2 separate regions of the Homo sapiens genome follow, and region 2 is linked to region 1. The links come from fine-mapping of genetic effects on gene expression. A gene starts in region 1. The other region holds a variant in brackets. All regions are shown on one strand. Distances are between the middles of the regions. Region 1 holds the start of HOXA-AS2 (HOXA cluster antisense RNA 2). Region 2 has its middle 78 kb from the start of HOXA1.

Region 1 (5,376 bases):
GAAAGTAAGAACTCCAAGTGAAAACCTGCCTCTCTCAGGTTTGGGGGATAGAGGACAGGAGTAGAAGCTGGTTTCCAAAAAGCGTTCTCCTGACCCCCAAGAACTCACTCCTCTCATTCTTACTGCTGCCTGCCTCATACCCCTCACCAATCATTCACACTGAGCTCTCCAGATACCCTAGAAAGGGACCTGGAGGTATTGCTGGCAAATTCCTCCCTACCCCCAAGTTTCTGAAGAGGCATCAACTCAAAGATGAGAAGGGGCCCCCTTCAAAGCTCTTGGAACAGTCGAGCAAATGAAAACTCTTAAAGCCATAAATTGTCCGGGTGCGGTGGCTCATGCCTGTAATCCCAGCACTTTGGGAGGCCGAGGTGGGTGGATCATGAGGTCAGCAGTTCGAGACCAGCCTGAACAACATGGTGCAACCCCGTCTGTACTAAAAATACAAAAATTAGCCAGGCATGGTGGTGCATGCCTGTAATCCCAGCTAGTCGGGAGGCTGAGGTGGGAAAATCACTTGAAACCAGAAGGCAGAGGTTGCAGTGAGCTGAGATCGTACCACTGCACTCCAGCCTGGGACAGAGCGCGACTCTGTCAAAAAAAAAAAAAAAAAAAAGCCATAAATCAATGAAATAAGTCATTGGTACTGCTTCAGAGAAATGCCTTAACGCCAGCAAAGCTCAGAGGCATCTCAGCTCCAGCCTGGGGCCTCCAAACGGCTGCTAACATCCAGTTAATGCTCCAACTGCTGTTTAACAATTAACATTAATGACTTGGGGTGGGATGGGTGATTTGGTGGGATGAGAAGGGAAAAATCTGAAAAGTCAAAAGACATTTAACTTTTGAGGTTAAAAAACAGCTTCTCTATGAGAGATCTTGGCCTGGGCAGCCTATCTGGGGAACCAGCAGCTGACAGTCCTCCTTTGCCACTCTGCAATCCAGTTTCCTGGAGCAAAGCTACGGGCCTTTTAAAAACCCAGCTGCCAGTCCCTCTTCACTCACTTCACCGGCCTCCAACTTGGCCTGCGCTGGGACTGATACTGTGGTCCTGGTCACCAGAGCCAAAATAGGGGGAAAGCTGGCTTGGAAAAAGCAGGCAACCAAGGGTACACACCGTTAGCCAATATTTGCAAGGCTGTTGGCAGATTAGATATATCTGTACTCAAACACTGCAATCTGATTTCTCTGTCAAAAGTACACTTAACATTTTTGTCCCATTACTTAAATCTAGTGGATTTTCTACTCAGCATCAGGTAAGGCTCTCTTAGCCCACTGTGTGCGTGTGTGTGTGTGTGTGTGTGTGTGTGTGTGTGTGTGTGTGTATGATAGATTCTTATTTAACATGAGATATTTCCTGTGGGTGCAAGTGCAGTAGAGAAATGGGCCAAGTTCTCTGGACACGTGTGGATGTGTATATTGTGTTATACACAAGGCCCCAAATTCCTGCAACTATTTATACATGCAATTGTTCTGTTGTTTGCTGAGATGGAAATCATATACACAGAGTTACAAATTCCTGAAATGTTCCATCTATATTTGATATAAACAGACATACAGTAGCTGAGAAAGTAACACAGCTTGACTATTGCTCTGTTTACCTTCTATTGGAAAAAATAATTGTATCCAGAACACCATATCAGCCTTATAGCACGACTGAATATCATGTTGCAATTAATTAACAACCTGATATCTATTTGGGAGCAAATTTAAGGGAAGACTGGAGGCCTAGGAAATAGAATACAAAATCTCAAAACTTTTTAAAAAGAAGTAATTCCTGAAAGAACAAAGCAAACTCATTCCTTCATACCATGCTTCTGAAAGCTATTCCAGCAGCCCCTCCCCCAAACAGGCATGTAATTTATGGATCTTTTACAAGGTAATAAACCACAGTAATTACCTCCCTGCATCCCAAACTAAGAGGACAAATTAAGTCAGAACTTGAAAATAATTTAAAAGAGTTTTCCCTTGTTTCAAATAGGAAAAGGAAACGCCAAGACATAGAAAACCACGCTTTTCCCGTAGGAAGAACCGATGATGAGCCCTGATGAAAGAAGGAAGAAGACCCGCTGTCTGCGAAGGCCTAAAGGTTAGAAATACAGCAATTTTTCTCATGCCGAAGGAAAGGCAAAATGGTCTAAGAAACTGCAAGAGTGTGATACAAGTTTTCCTCAACAGCGAGCTGGGACTGGCGACAATTTCTTAACTCACAGCCTCCGCAGTCGCCTTAGTCGACAAAGAGAGCAGCCCACGCAGCGGCCGCCGCGCCCGTGCCCGTGGCCTTTACTTGCTTTTGCCCTGAAGTTCAGTGTAGTGGTTTGTTTGGGGCTTGCAGGAAGAAACAAACACACTCCCTCTGACTCTCCACAACCCATCTTTGCCTTCTGCAACCGCTTCTCCTGCCCATCGCTGGTTTTGGGGTAGGCTCTTTGTCTGCCTGAGGCCCCGCACTCGCAGGGCAAGAAGCTTAAAGGAATCCAACTCCAAACTCCTCCGAAGTTAAATATTGACCAGAACCTCTTTCAACAGGCCGCGGTTGCCAGGAACCGTGGAGGGCCAACTCCTCCCAACCGCCCTGGTGCAAAGTCCCACGCGGCGAAGAGTTTTGGAGCAGCGCTTACCTAGAAAGATGTTTAAATTCTGAACCAGGAATTGTCTCCAACTCCAGGCGCTCAGGGAATCGCCTTTTCCGGTGTCCAGGCGCTCTGCAGACAAATAAACAGCAGAAGGTGAATGGCGGCTGCGAGGGAAGGGAGTTGGAGGCCGGGAGTGGGAAGCGAGGCTCATGCGGGCGCCAAGGTGGCCCTGGGGGTGACGCGAACATCAGGGAGTCACCAGGGCACTCGTCCGTGTGGCGCACTCATTGCTCGAAATGTTCCAGTCTACAAATGGTCCGAAGATGGTGATTTATTTTTGTAAAATAAATACATACTCCATCTCCACACCCATACTTTCTCCTTTTTCTTTCTTTTTTTTGGCGGGGGAGTGGGGAAGGAAAGGACATGAAGCAAACAGAGGAAGCTGAGAAGGTGGAAGTGGCTTTGCTGGTGGTGTGGGCTGCTTTCAGAGAGCTCTCTCCTCAGGCACCACAACTTGGAGAATGTGAATGCTTGCTTTATTTTCCTTTCCTAACAAAAGGAAGCCTTGTCTGGGAGCATTCAATCACGGACTCTCCTGAAACCTCACTAATATGTGTTCATTTCTGTAGGCGCGAAATCAGACCCGGGTTCATTCCACTGGCCAGAGGCAGTCTTGGGAGGATTTGTGTTCTGGTTTATTCAACTCTGGGTGCGTTCCTTTTAGGTCCTAGTGGGCTGGCGGGGCTACCGCAGCACCTAGTCCCTCAGAGCAGGCCAGCTAAGGCTGCTGGAAACTGAGAGGGACGCCGGCTGGTACAATACCTGCTCAGGGGCCCTGCTCCTGCCTGGCCTTGCGCAACGGCCACAAGCCGATCTGATGCCTTGATTCTGCTCAAATCTCGTCCCTCACAGTATTTGCAACCCTCTCTTGCCCTCTAACCAGCAAATGGTCACCGAGCCGGCAGTCAGCTTTCTGGGAGTGGGAGATGATGGGGAAAGAGGAAAGAATCGTCCGCTCGCCGGACCCTGGCTTGGAGAAGTTCTGCGCTCCGCTGGGACTCTGCGGGCCCTTTGCGTCTACAGACCTATCCCTGCCCCGACTACCCCTTCACTCAGACCCAGGTAACCTCTTACCCCAGCCTGCCCCAAACCAGCCCTCCGCTGTCTGTCTGCCTTCACGCAATTCTGTAGATAGCGCTAAGAGGGGATATCAAATAGCTGAGGAGTCCCCTGACCCCTGGCTTCGGAGCCCCCTAGCACGTGGAACAAGTGGCCGCACACCGGTAGCTGCGCTCTGCCACAGTTCGACCCGTAGCCCCCACAAACCAAAGGAAAAGGACCCAGGATCCACGCTGCGCGCTGCGCCCCCTTTCTCTTGTTCAAACTTGCTTTCTGTGTCCCCAAAGGGAGTGCCCCCTGGTCTTGGGGCTCCTGGCATGACCATGAGCAAGGTGGACTCAGCCATCCTGCACTTTGCCTCTCAATTTCATTCCAGAAAGATCCGCTATGCCGCCACCCACCACTCCCCTGCGTGACACTTAGGAGTATGTAATTATTATGGTTATTATTTTTGCTGTTTCCTTATCTCCAAGTCTAATATTCATGGCTGCTGTACCCCATAAATCGTTCAGACTAATGAGTCACAGAGAGATGCTGCCCAGGTCTCTCACTTTACAATGGCTGCCGCCGCCGCCGTGGCCTCTCTCTCCGCGTTTTTGGCGCTCGCTTGCTCCCTCGCTCGCCCGGCGCGGGTGATTTATGAACGCCGGGAAAATTGAACAAAGCCGCGCGCCCGTCCTGTGGTATCTCTGCAGCCTTCCCCAGCGTGAATCAGAACATTACCAACTGTCTGCGCATCCGTCCCACTTCATCACCAAAGCCAGGATGTGACCGCAGAAAACCCAAGCCCGAACTCACGTTTCCCCGGACGCGGCGCGCTCCCTGGACTCGCAGAAACCCTGCGGAAAAGGCCCCAAGATCTGGTGAGGGCCTGCCAGCTCCGTCCTCCCTGCCGAGGGCTCTCTCCTGCCTTCCTGAAGGAGTTAAAAGCCTTTGGAGATAAATCTGAGGGTGTGTGTTTTTAAAAATCAAATGGTAAGTTGGAATCTCACTTCTGAGAGATTCATTCCTAGTGAGGCCCTGACGACTCCGATCCATTCCTGACGATCTGCATTAATTATTTAATGAGTCACGTGACCTCAAAGATTACAATTTCAATATCTCCCTTGCACAGGCGCTACACCTTTATCAGCTGCAACCAGGGTCCTTTTTTTGGCTCTGCCGGCCTCCGGGGCACATTCATCCTTGCCCTGGTCTGAGGCAAGCCACCACCATGGAAATAGCAGGGCAAGCATGACAGAATTAGTCATCCTGGGATTATGACCGTTGTGGATAGTGGGGAGTCCACTGCTCTCCGAGATGCCCTGACATCTGTCCCCTCCTGAGCCCAGTGGCCAGTCCACCTGTCTGAGCTCTATGACTAGGGTGGCTTGGTTACAAAATCTCCCCAAGCAGCTTTGATGGCCCATGAGGCAAGAACCCATCCTTCTTCTCTGGCTGTACACACCTGTGACCGTCCAGGTCAAGTGTAAGCTTAGATGCATACCTCCATTCCTGGCAGAATATCTTCCTAAGAGGAAAGATGTCTGTGCTCTTATTGCTCTCTAGAGTGAGACTAAAGGTTGCATTCCACCCTCGTACTCATTAACTTAAGGAACGGTGGAGGGAGGATCATTCGGCTGCCTCAGTTTTCTCATCTGTAAATTAAGAAGATTGAACCAAAATGGCCTCCAGGTCTCCT
Region 2 (5,376 bases), 100 kb before region 1:
TCAGCTACTAGGGAGGATGAGGTGGGAGGATTGCTTGAGCCTTGGAGGCAGAGGTTGCAGTGAGTCAAGATCACGCCATTGCACTCTAGCCTGGGCAACAAAGCAAGACCCTGTCTCAAAAAAATAAATAAATAGAAACAACAAAAAGTTAAAAAGTGGGGAGATGAAGTTAAGCCACAGAGTTTTTCTTTTCTTTTTTTTTTTTTTTTGAAATGGAGTCTCACTCTGTCACCCAGGCTGGAATGCAGTGGCACGATCTCAGCTCACTGCAACCTCCGCCTCCCAGGTTCAAGAGATTCTCCTGCCTCAGCCTCCCGAGTAGCTGGGATTACAGCTGCACACCACCAGGCCTGGCTAATTTTTGTATTTTTAGTAGAGCCGGGGTTTCGCCATGTTGGCCAGGCTGGTCTCAAACTCCTGACCTCAAGTGATCCGCCCACCTCAGCCTCCCAAAGTGCTGGGATTATAGGCATGAGCCACCACACCCAGCCTATTAGTTTTCTTTTTGCTTGTCTGCTTATTTATGCAAACACTGTTAAATTTTTATCAAGCTAAAATAAATGGGTTATAAGATAGTATTTGTAAACCTCATTTTAACCTCAAACCAAAAAACATACAATGGATACACAAAATATAAAAAGTAAGAGTCCAAATCATATCACCAGAGAAAATCACCTTCACTAAAAGAGGAAGGAAAGAAAGAAGGAAGAGAAGACCACAAAACAACCAGACTACAAATAGCAAAATGATAGCAGTAAGTCCTTACTTATTATAATAACATTGAATGTAAATGGACTAAACTGTCTTATGAAAATACGTACACTGGCTAGATGAAAAAACAAGACCCATCGATCTGTTGCCTACAAAAAAACAAAACAACAGCAACAAAAAACACTTCACCTGTAAAAACACACATAGACTGAAAATAAAGGGATGGAAAAAGATATTCCATGACAATGGAAACTAAAAAAGAACAGGAGTTGCTACACTTATATCAGACAAAATAGATTTTAAGACCAAAACTCTAAGAAGAGACAAAGAAAGCCACTATACAATGAGAAAGGAGTCAACTCAGCAAAATAATATAACAATTTTAAATATATATGCACCCAACAGTGAAGCACCCAGATATATAAAGAAAATATTACTAGTGGTAAAGAGAGAGATACACCCCAACACAATAATAGCTAGAGACTTCAACGCCCCACTTTCAGCATTGATAGATCTTCCAGACAAAAAATCAACAGACACCATTAGTCTTACTCTGCACTAGAGACCAAGTGGATCTAATAGATATTTACAGAACACTTCATCCAACAGCTGTAGAATATGCATTCGTTTCCTCAGCACATGGATCATTCTCAAGGATAGAGTATATGTTAGGTCACAAAACAAGTCTGAAAACATTCAAAAATTGAAATAATATCAAGCATCTTCTCTGACCACAGTGGAATATAACTAGAAATTAATAACAAGAGGAATTTTGGAAACTATACAAATACATGGAAATTAAACAAAGTGCTCCTGAATGACCAGTGGGTCAATGAAGACATTTTAAAAAATTGAAAAATTTCTTCAAACAAATGATAATGGAAAAACAAAATACTAAAACCTCTGGGATACAGCAAAAGCAGTACTGAGAGGGAAGTTTATAGCTGTAAGTGCCCACATCAAAAAAGGGTAAAAACCTCAAATAAACAATCTAGTGATGCATCTTAAAGGAATAGAAAAGCAAGAGCAAGCCAAACCCAAAATTAGTAGAAGAAAAGAAATACTAAGGACCAGAACAGAAATAAATGAAATTGAGATGAAGAAAAAAATACAAAAGATCAATAAAACAAAAAGTTGGTTTTTTAAAAAGTTAAACAAAATTGACAAACCTCTAGCCAAACTAAAAGACAGAAAATCCAAATAAATAAAATCAGAAATGAAAAAGGAGACATTTACAACTGATACTGCAGAAATTCAAAGTATCATCAGTGGTTACTACAAGCAACTATATGACAATAAATTGGAAAATCTAGAAGAAATGGACAAATGTCTATATACATAAAACCAACCAAGACTGAATCAGAAAGAAATTCAAAACCTAAACAGACCAAGAACAAGTAATGAGATCGAAGCCATAATAAAAAGTCTTCCAGTAAAGAAAAGCCCAGGACCTGATGGCTTTACTGCTGAATTCTACCAAACATTTAAAGAAGAACTAATACCAATCCTTCTCGAATTATTCCAAAAAATAGAAGAAAAAGTAATACTTCCAAATTCATTCTACAAGGCCAATATTACCCTGATACCAAAACCAGACAAAGACACATCAAAAAAAGAAAAACCACTGATGAATATTGATGCAAAAATCCTCAAGAAAATACTAGCAAACCGAATTCAACAATACGTTAGAAAGATCATTCATCATGGCTAAGTGGAATTTATCCCTGGATGCAAGAATGGTTCAACACATGCAAATCAATCAATGTGATACATCTTATCAACAGAATGAAGGATAAAAACCACAGGATTATTTCAATTGATCCTGAAAAAGCATTTGATAAAGTTCAACGTCCTGTTATGATAAAATCCCTCAAAAACCTGGGGATAGAAGGAACATATCTCAACATAATAAAAGCTACATATGACAGACCCACGGTATCATACTGAATGGGGAAAAACTGAAAGCCTTTCCTCTAAGATCTGGAATATGGCAAGGATGCCCACTGTCACCACTGTTATTTAACATAGTACTGGAAATCCTAACTAGAGCAATCAGACAAGAGAAAGCTATAAAGGGCACCCAAATTAGAAAGGAAGAAGTCAAATTATCCTTGTTTGCAGATGATATAATCTTATAATTGGAAAAACCTACTAAAGACTCCACAAGAAAACTATTAGAACTGAGAAACAAATTCAGTAAATTTGCAGGATACAAAATCAACACACAAAAATCAGTAGCATTTCTATATGCCATAGGTGAACAATATGAAAAAGAAATTTAAAAAGTAATCCCACTTATACACATAAAATTAAATACCCGGAAATTTACTTGCCAAAGAAGTGAAAGATCTCTATAATGAAAACTACAAAATACTGAAAGAAATTGAAGGGGACACCAAAAAATGGAAAAATATTCCATGTTCATGGATTGGAAGAACCAATATTGTTACAATGTCCATACCACCCAAAGCAATCTACAGATTCAATGCAATCCCTATCAAAATACTAATGATATCC[T/G]TCCCCAGAATACAAAAAAATTCTAAAATTTATATGGAACCACAAAAGTCCCAGAATAACCAAAGCTATCCTAAGCAAAAGGAACAAAACTGGAGGAATTACATTACCTGACTTTGAATTATACTACAGAGCTATAGTAACCAAAACAGCATGGTACTGGCACAAAAAAAGACAATAGCTCTATGGAACAGAATAGAGAACCCAGAAACAGATCCACACGCCTAGAGTGAAGTCATGTTTGACAAAAGTACCAAGAGCATACACTGGGGAAAAGACAGTCTCTTCAATAGATGGCACTGGGAAAACTGGATATCCATATGCAGAAGAGTGAAACTAGACCCCTATCTCTCACCATATAAAAAAATCAAATAAAAAGAGTGGATTAAAAGACTTAAATCTGGCTGGGCAAGGTGGCTCACACCTATAATCCCAGCACTTTGGGAGGCCAAGGCAGGTGGGTCACTGGAGGTCAGGAGTTCAAGACCAGCCTGACCAACATGATGAAACTCTGTCTCTACTAAAAATCCAAAAAAATTAGCTAGGCATGGTGGTGGGCACCTGTAGTCCCAGCTACTTGGGAGGCTGAGGCAGGAGAATTGCTTGAACCCAGGAGGCAGAGGTTGCGGTGAGCCAAGATTGTGCCACTGCACTCCAGCCTGGGTGACAGAGTGAGTCTCTGTCTCAAAAAAAAAAAAAAAAAAAAAAAAAAAAAACTTAAATCTAAGACCTGAAACTATGAAACTGCTTCAAGTCAAAATTGGAGAAAATCTCTAGGGCATTGGTCTGGGCAAAAATTTCTTGAGTCCCACAAGTACAGGCAACCAAAACAAACATGGACAAATGAGATAACATCAAGTTAAAAAGCTTCTGCACAGCAAAGAATACAATCAACAAAATGAAGAGACAACCCACAGAATGGGAGAAAATCTTTGCAAAATACTCCTCTGATAGGGGATTAACAACCAGAATATATAAGGAACTCATACAACTCTATAGGAAAAAAAATCTAACAACCCAATCAAAAAATGGGCAAAACATTTGAACAGACATATCTCAAAAGAAGACATACAAATGGCAAAGAAGCATATGAAATGGTGCTCAACATTACTGATCATCAGAGAAATGCAAATCAAAACTACAATGAGATACCATCTCACCCCTGTTAAAATGGCTTATATACAAAAGACAGGCAATAACAAATGTTTGTGAGGATGTGGATAAAAGGGAACCCTTGTATTCTGTTGGTAGGAATGTAAATTAGTACAATCACTAGGGAGAATTTGGAGGTTCCTCAAAAAACTGATCATTGAGCTACCATAGGATCCAGCAATTCCACTGCTGGGTATATCCCCCAAAGAAAGGAAATCATTATATCAAAGAGATATTTCCACTCCTATGTTTGCTGCAGCACTGTTTACAATAGCTAGGATTTGGAAGCAACCTAAGTGTCCATCAACAGATGAATGGATAAAGAAAATGTGGTACTTGGCCGGGAACAGTGGCTCACACCTGTAATCCCAGCACTTTGGGAGGCTGAGGCGGGTGGATCACGAGGTCAGGAATTCGAGACCAGCCTGGTCAACATGGTGAAACCCCATCTCTACTAAAAATACAAAAATTAGTAGCCGGGCATGGTGGCTCATGCTTGTAATCCCAGCTACTCGGGAGGCTGAGACAGGAGAATCGCTTGAACCCAGGAGGGAGAGGTTGTGGTGAGCTGAGATCACACCATTGCACTGCAGCCTGGGCAACAAATGTGAAACTCTGTCTCAAAAAAAAAGAAAGAAAAAAGAAAATGTGATACTTATACACAATGAAGTACTATTCAGCCATAAAGAAGGATGATAACCAGTCATTTGCAACATGGATGGAACTGGAGATCATTATGTTAAGGAAAACAAGCCAGGCACAGAAAGACAAACATCGTATGTTCTCACTTACTTGTGGGATCTAAACATCAAAACAATTGAACTCATGGACACAGAGAGTAGAAAAATAGTTGCCAGAGGCTGGGAAAGATAGTGGGGGAATCGGGGGAGATGAGGATGGTTAATGAGTGCCAAAAAAATGGAACAAATGAATAAGACCTACTATTTGATAGGACAACAGGGTGACTATAGTCTATAATAACTTAAATGTATATTTTAA

The links. PIP is the estimated chance that this variant, and not a neighbour inherited with it, causes the effect.
Region 2: its variant is the best candidate, but not a certain one, in a credible set for the expression of HOXA-AS2 in whole blood (TOPMed, PIP 0.76).

What each region holds. Positions count from the first base shown.
Region 1 is chr7:27,119,941-27,125,316 of GRCh38, forward strand. It overlaps HOXA-AS2 (HOXA cluster antisense RNA 2), which reads left to right and starts at 1,979. Exons shown (of 4, transcript NR_122069.1): 1 at 1,979-2,086; 2 at 2,527-2,726; 3 at 3,520-3,698. It overlaps HOXA3 (homeobox A3), which reads right to left. Exons shown (of 6, transcript NM_153631.3): 4 at 2,619-2,702. RefSeq lists enhancers at 1,756-2,955, 2,534-3,331, 4,131-4,928.
Region 2 is chr7:27,015,077-27,020,452 of GRCh38, forward strand. No RefSeq gene overlaps it. Among named protein-coding and RNA genes, the nearest start is that of HOXA1, 78 kb to the right of the region's middle. The variant T/G (reference allele first, on the strand shown) is at 3,229.